2 linked regions of the Homo sapiens genome follow. The protein of the gene in region 2 purifies or fractionates together with the protein of the main gene of each other region. This does not show direct contact. Each region holds a gene or a part of one and is shown on either strand. Other genes may lie near its edges.

What was found.
Region 1: the proteins of SENP6 (region 2) and RNF146 purify together in Homo sapiens (affinity purification with western blotting; one study listed by BioGRID). This does not show direct contact.

Annotation. Positions count from the first base shown.
Region 1 is NC_000006.12:127,280,086-127,284,115, reverse strand, and holds part of RNF146 (E3 ubiquitin-protein ligase RNF146), read right to left. Parts: intron 3,886-4,030; 5' UTR 3,778-3,885; coding exon 3,776-3,777; intron 3,601-3,775; exon of another isoform or gene 1-3,600. UniProt on the Homo sapiens protein: E3 ubiquitin-protein ligase that specifically binds poly-ADP-ribosylated (PARsylated) proteins and mediates their ubiquitination and subsequent degradation. May regulate many important biological processes, such as cell survival and DNA damage response.
Region 2 is NC_000006.12:75,600,401-75,604,679, reverse strand, and holds the start of SENP6 (sentrin-specific protease 6), read right to left. Parts: upstream 2,801-4,279; 5' UTR 2,156-2,800; coding exon 2,104-2,155; intron 1-2,103.

The sequences.
Region 1 (4,030 bases), about 52 Mb from region 2:
CATACAGCTCGTTTATCTACAGAAAAAAAAGTTTCCAACCTAAAAACATTATCCTCCACCCTACTTAATATGATTAATATTTTGCATGACTCTTACTCTTGCATTTATGAATAAACCAAAACACATAATTTCAAAACTAAGAAAGCAATTACAATCATCCCAGGAGAAGGCATGAATTATAATAACATAATTGGAAAGGCAAAACAATCCTGTTTGTGCAGGTATTTTGGTTCCATCATCAGAATGAAGTGAAGTTGGACAAAGTTAATCTGCAAACAATGGACACCAGACAGCTAAATGGTCATTATTTCATCTGAAGCACTCTTAACTATCAATTTGCCATAGCAATTTATAAATTCTGATTCTGTTTAGCCCATCAAGTATACTGTTAGTCTATCACCAACTAACAAATGGGCAGAAAAACTTAGTGATATTTCTTATTTAATTCTGAATGAGGCACATGCAATAAGTAAGATAGAGATAAAATGTGTAACAAGATAGACACAAAGTAACCCCAAACTGCTAGTCTACCTATAAGACATACTTCAAGGCTTTTTAAAAAACCATTTTAATCTACCCTACACAGTCTCTGTTTTGCAGTTCCAATGATCTTAAAATAGGTGGGAGACTAAATGTATGCAGATGATCATACCAATATGTAAATAAGAAAGCTTTTCCCCTCCCTTTGTGTAGAGCAAGTATTAATGCTAATCAAAAGAGGTATTCCCTATCTCATAAATGTCTCAGAAAATTCTAATTTTGAAAAAGGGAATTTATTTCCAGTTTACTAAACTAAGAATTTAATACACAGAAATTTGGAGTGACGTTAGTCCAATTCTATTAATAAGTATAATACATCATTTACTTTCAAAGACGTTTTTACTGAATTCTTCATGTGATATTCCAACTTTTAAGTATAAATCCCCTTCTTCCAATAGATAAACCATGTGAAATATTTCTGCCAGACTAATAAGAGTCTATTAATACTAAGTCTTCTTCTCAAGAAGACAAAATATAGAGGGGTATGGGCAGAGTTAGTGGAAATCTCCAAGAACTCAGATTTCCTTGAAACTTCTTGGACAACTAGTCAAATGAAAGGCAAAATTATTATAAGCAAAAAAGATCTTTAGTATGTGTAGTATTCAAGAAATTTTTAGCTTGCAATAAAAACTCCAAATATTAAAAATCAGATTTTTAAAGTCTGAATTTAGAATCCAATTACAGACACACAAAAAGGGAACAATCCTACATATAATTTCAAGGGGCTTAAGGATTTCTATGAAGCTGGTCCACATATGAACCACTAATGAGACAAGAGGAGTTCACTGAAAGGTTTTACGTCAGGAAATAACAGCCAGTTTAGTAGCTTCCAGACCATTTGAACAGCAGGTTGGAGGAAAGTTTGGTAATGCAGGAGGAGGTATGGCGAAAGGGAAACTAGAATATCCAGGTAGTAATGCAAGTATAAGATAATTAGAGGGAGGTTGCTGATGTAAGTTTCCAACAATAGAATAGAAGAATGCTAAGGAAAAAGAAATGAAAGCATTTGATTACTGATGGATGGTGACACATTCACCAAAATTCAGAATTTGAGGAGAGTTCTGTCTCAGACATAATGACTTTATTAAGGTCTCCAGGTGGAGATAGGTAGATGACAGCTGAATTTACTAGTTTGATACTCCAAGAATAAATCTGAGCTGAAAAAAGTCTGGTGACTCACCAACACATACATGGTCCTTGGAGCCATGAAAATGAGTAAATGCCCAAATTAAACCTGTAGAGAGAGCAGTCAAAAGGGCCAACCACAGAATCTTGAATTACTCCAATATCTGTGAGGTAAAATAGCCAGGAAGGGGTGTAAGGAATGGTCAGAGAAGAACAGGAAATAAAGATAGACCACCACCACAAAAGCCAACAAGGGAGACATTCGCAAAAAAGAATAATCAAGCAAGTTACTCTAAGTGACAAAAATTTCACCATACAATTCACTTTTGTGTGGTGCAAAAGTTGTGAACCCCACACACTTAATAGCTATTTTGATTTCCTAAACACCATCAATCCCAGTAAACTTTTACTCGGCCAAGACATCTTTCTTTCCCTATTCCCCAGAGACTATCATAAAACTTCTCCCTCCTAGTTTATCGATATACTAACACCTGTATCACTGAGAAATTAGGTAAGTCAAAAATAAATCCTGAAAATCTATCTTTACCTTTACTGTCTTATCATTATTCCTCCTGGCTCAATATGGGGTACTGCTACTTGTTTACAAAGCTAACCCCTCAACATCTAGTAAGTACTGTCCCCTAACTCCTCCAAGACTGATCAATATACTCTGTCCCTAAGTATCAAAATCAATTAAGATTGATTGTATGTTAAATAAATGTAAAATCTGGTAATATAGTAAGTACTAAATAAATGTTCACTCCCTGCACTTATTTTGAAGTCTCTTTCTCCTACCCTGCCTTCCCACATATTACTGTTCCCTGACTCCTCTAAAATGTGTTGATGATTAGGCAGCTGTTTCCCTCCTCATTCCCTTGGCTTGAAAAATATTTCCTAATTTTCTTTGACTGTTAAAATTCTACTCATTCTTTGAAGGCAAGGTGAAACTTATTCTGTTCATTCTGAACCCTTCAGATGAAATTAATCTCTTCCTCTGTTCAGTTTCAATAGCATCTGATTGTTACCTTAATATGGCATCTATTCCACTGTTTGTTAATTACATACATGTCTCATTTACTGGATCACAGTAAGTTCCTTGATGACCAGCACCTAGACTATCTGACCTATTAAGATTTTAAAAAATGTATACAGATAGATAAATGGACAGGATTAAATAAAATATATATTTTTAAAGACAAATGCTTATTAGTATCATTTTTCAATTATCAAATTTTCAATACTGAATAAAAATAATATGGTCATACTTTTAATAATAAATTAATTATTGTTAATACATATCATTACATGTAACCAGTATCATACTGGAAGAGTAGAAAGCAAGAGTTTTATGTCAAACTGGGAAAATGTGAAATAGCATCTACCAAGGTCACTCTTGCTCTAATAAGAAAAACACTGTAATTAAAAGTCAATAAAATATTCACTACATTTTTCATGAATGACATCAAGTTGCATAGGGCTTATATGAATTTAGAAAACAGAAATATATTCATAGTGAAAAATGTTTCATCAATACGGTGAAGTTAAATATGGACAAATCCAAGGTAGTGTGTAACACTTTAAAGCATATCATGCAAAGATAAATGATGAAAGCACAACTAGTAAAACTGGGGATCAGAGTGAAGTGATATGAATAAAATGCAGTGATGTATTATTACATTAAAAAAATCAATTATGTAGAAATTCCTTTAATTTAGTGAAACAAGTTTTTAGTAACTAGAGTTTTTATAACCTAGTAGTCTGTCTTATTTACAAAAGCTAGTACTACTTGCCTAGCTTAGTTATTTAAGAAAATTATTATGTAAAAAGAAGGTAGAACCCAGAGGACCTGGAGATCTATTTCAGCATTCTTTGAGCAAACTCCTGTGTCTTCAGTTTTTCTTATAGAGACTTTTCCTTTTGAGGAGACTTGGAAATCTACATTAACGATAACTTAATGTAAATAAATTGTTAATAAAGCACCTATAAGTCAAAAGAAAATGCTCATTTAATATAATTAAAACTACATATGACAGATACTCAATTTACCACACGTTAAACCAATCCATTTAATTTACTGCAGCACTGAAAAAAACCATGATGCTACACTTACATTTCTATTACAGATCCCACAGATGCCTGCCACAAAAATAAAGCATTTTCTTCACCAGCAGTCAGCCAGCTTACAGTATTTTCTCTTCCACTGCTGGTTCATTCTTTGTGCTGCAAAAGAAAAAAAGAGTAATTAAGATCAAGAGAATCAGTTAATTATGTATAATCCTTTCAAAAAATTCAGTGGAAAACTTTATCTTAAAAGTGGGAAAAATTAAAGACAAGATGCATGCTTTTACCACTGCTATTCAACATG
Region 2 (4,279 bases):
AAAATTGGTTATGAGGAACTAAAATTGTTCCTTTTCCTTATGCTTTTTTTTTTTGGAGACAGAATCTCGCTCAGTTGCCCTGGCTGGAGTGCAGTGGCGCTATCACTGCAACCTCTGCCTCCCGTTTCCAAGCGATTCTCCTGCCTCAGCCTCCGCAGTAGCTGGGACTACAGGCGCGCGCCAACCACACACGGCTAATTTTTGTATTTTTAGTAGAGTGGGGTTTCGCCATGTTGGCCAGGCTGGTCACCAATTCCTGGCCTCAAGTGATCCGCCTGCCTCGGCCCTCCAAAATGCTGTGTGTGATTAAGGGCGTGCCGCCACCGTGCCCAGAACCCTTATGCTTATGCTCTAAAGAAGTTACCGTTTGCTTGCTTTATAAAAATGCTTAAGACATGGTGAAACTCGAATTTATCATACCTATACATTCAAAGACCCTTAGATTAGAATAAAGTAAAAGTAGTAGTTTGAAACTCACATTAACTCTACATCTGTGGCTTTATTTGTGCTTGTTTTAATCCTCCCTATGTTCATCCAATTAGAATTTTAACTCAATCGGGCCTATAGAAGCTGGAAATCTAGGATAGCACAAAAGTATAATCATCTGCATACTGAAGATAATAAGCACGAGTAAGCCATCTTTTGTTTCCAATTTCAAAACAAAAACAACACACATAGCACTACCTGTAACACAAGCTGCACCCTCTCAGCCTCGACAGGTACCCATTCCGCAAACTGGAATGGAGGTAATACGAAACGAACCCAGAAAAACTCAGAAGCTTTTCTTACTCTTACTAGGAAATCTCCTGTAAAGTTCTCATCACTTTTAGATAAAGGCTGGCTTGTACGGTAAGACTTTTTTTTCACTTTACTATACTCAAGTAAGAAGAATTAAGAAAAATTACCTCTATTATTCACTATTCTTTCACTAGACTAACACTGAGTACCTACTGTGTTCCAGGCACTGTTCGAGGTGCTGTTAACAAAGCAGTACCAAAGCATTCCCATTCCTCAACACCCTCCTATAGAACCTGTTTAGGGATTTTCTTAATTTTAAGTTAAATTGTACTTTCTTGATTCAGTAATCTTTCCGAAACATACTAAAAGAAGTTATTTTTTGAAGTAAAGCTTATGACATATTGCAATGAAAATCATCTTTGCAAAATTATCCAAAGAGTAGTTAATTCTTTTTAACAAGAAGAATGAGTCTCTGAGCAGCAGAGACTCATTTTGCTAAACAAAGTGTAAACACTGAACCCATAGTCAAATTAAGTAATATAAACACTTCTTGGGCTACAATTACAATAACATTTAGCTCTATTTTGGGGGTCCTTATATATTCATAGGCCAAAAAAATCAATATTGTTCCCCATTACCACCTTCCCCAACAAAAACATACAGCTTTTCTTGAGGCTGGCTTAGTCTACTTACAGCAAATGTTTAACTTTCCCTCACGAGTGAGTAAAACTCAAATTGTGTCAATAAGCTTTAGTTACGGCCCCAAAATTGACACTGTAAACCTTACTCTTTTTCCAGATAAATTATTTTACAGAATATTTTTATAAAAACACATTCCGAAAGAATATCAGACAAGGCCAGGCCTAATCTGAAGGCTGGCTGCAAAAGCAAGCCTGAAACTCTGAGAAACAGACCAGAGGGTATAAAACACACCTCAATGAAACTGTCTGTCCCCTCCCTACTTAGATTGGTCCCCAGTTGCACCCAACCTTAGCAATTTGAAACTTTTCATGAACACCAGACAAGATGTGAATGCTGGCTGCTCTCATCCTTAGGCCACCACCCCAAAATTTTTTAAATGTCAAAGACTTCAGCGCGCACTCTCAAAGGACGCCCACCAACTCTGGCTCGTAGCTCAATCCACCCGCGCCCCCTGGGCCGAACCGGCTCGCAGCCGAGCCCCTCGCCTAGGCGGACTCGAACCAGGTGCGCTCGCAGCACACTCCCTCCCCGTCATCGCTCATCCCTCGTACTTCACCGCCCCCGAAACCCACCCAGCGCAGATAACTGAATATCCGGGGTTCTGGGGGCCACGTTTTCCAGTATACCCTCCCTTCTCCCCGTCAAGGGCAGAAACAGACGTACCTTCCAGAAAAGTAATCTCCCCTGCGCTACCGCCGCTCTTGCCGGCCGCCATCTTCCTCCTCCCACGCCGCCTCCTTCTTAATCCATGGCCCACACCGCCGCCGTGCTCGCCGGGATGAGGGGCCGCGCCGGAGGAGGGTAGACGCCGCAGGGTTGCGGGCCTCGGGCTCAGCCGTCAGGCGGGCTGCGCTCCCACGTTCAGACGGGCCTATACAAAGGCAGGCCAGGCGCGCCCGGGCCTGTCCGCGGGCTGGCGGGCAGCGAGGCCCGCGGCCCGAGCTTCTCAGGCCTCTCCGGGGGAACGCGACCGGCGACGACGACGACGGCGCTTCCCGGGCCCGGTTCCTCTCGGCCCACGACTCCCCATCCACCGCCCACCCAGGCTGCCTGAGAAACTTCCCCCAGCCGTGGGTTCCCAAGAAAGGAGAATGAAAGCGAGCACACAAACACGCCTCCCTTCGTCCCAGGCCGTAAAATGGCCGCACCCGCCGCGCCGGAGCGGCGAGGTCTCTGCGACCGTCAGGCGCCCCCAGGCCCCTAGCTCGTTCTGCAGCCGCCGCCGCTACGGCCGTCCGCCCACCCCGCCCAGGCGTGAATGCATCAGCGGAGGCCTTTGCGACTGTCCATGTGGACAGGGGTGGGTCTCCTCTGCCACCGCCTCGCGTCGGTCGCCACAGCAGCTCCAGCCGCCGCCGCTGCCGCTCCTCCCCCACGGGCGCTGGAGCTGCCGCCCGGCTCCCGCCCCCGCCCCGACGCCGCCGCCCCCAGCGCGGCTCCCCCTCAGCAGCCCGGACTCGGCTCGCGGGCAGAGCTGGCTGCGGCGCCGCACCGAGCCCTGACTTGTGGGCGCCCGCCGCCCGGGCTTTCGGCAGGGTAGGCCTTTCACGGCGCGGGCTCGGCCTAGACACGTTACATCCAAAATCCCCACCGCCCAGGGCCCCATGGCAGACCTGGCGTGTGCGATGGGTTTGCTCCTCTGGCACCACAGATGCCTAAGAAATGTGAAAATGTCATTTCTTGAGGAGACCTTAGAATTTAAACTACAGCCAACCGAAGAGAAAAGGTAGTGAGGTACTGGAATCATATGTTTAGTAAATGATTCGTGGTCTACATTTATTTTTAAAGAAGTTTCCAAAATAATTTAGCAGGGAAGATCCTACCAGTCAGCTTTAAATGGCAGTGTTTTTTTGTTTTTTAAAAAGTCCCTTGTCATTTACGTGCCTGAGACTTGAAAAAACCATACCCTACCTTACAAGTGAGGCCTTTTTTTTTTTTAACTTCTTTTCCTTTAAAAATTTTCTCTTATTATAAAAATAATACATTCTCATTCAAGGAAATATGGAAAGCACAGAAAATGATTATAATGTTTCACGACTGAAACTCAACTCCTGTAGGTTTGTAGTCCTCTGATAGCATTTTTCTTGTCTTTCAGTATCGTTCTTTAAAAAACAAAAATGAGCAAAAATCTATGCTAAATGTCAATGAAAAGTCAACAGCAATTAAAATGATGCAGAAAACCGACATGATTAAGTGCAGTCTTTGGGGAATGGACTGTTCTAATTCAGTTGTGCTATTAACGAAGGCCTAAGCGGAAAGGCTTATTGTTTAAAACGTCCTTTAAAATCTTTTTCCTAATGCGAACCAATAATCTTTCCTGATTGGCAAGAGTAGTGTAATGAATGTAATTTATTTTTGTTGCCTGAGGTTATTGCATGATCCTGTTGTGGTGTTCTATGACATCGTCTGTGCCAATGACAGTATAATACTGAGAAGTGTAGGTAATAGGCAAATGTGGGTAACTGGCCATTTGTACAGACTTCAACATGTAGTTTTAAAAAAATCTTTAAGGCCGGGCACGGTGGCTCACGCCTGTAATCCCAGCACTTTGGGAGGCCGAGGCGGGTGGATCACCTGAGGTCGGGAGGAGTTCAAGATCAGCCTGACCAACATGGAGAAACCCCGTCTGTACTAAAAATACAAAATTAGCTGGGCGTCGTGGCACGTGCCTGTAATCTCAGCTACTCAGGAGGCTGAGGCAGGAGAATCGCTTGAATCCGGGAGGCGGAGGTTGCGATGAACGGAGATCGTGCCATTGCACCCCAGCCTGGGCAACAAGAGCGAAACTCCGTCTCAAAAAAAAAAAAAAAAAAACTTTCAGCAGCTTGATTCCATTTGG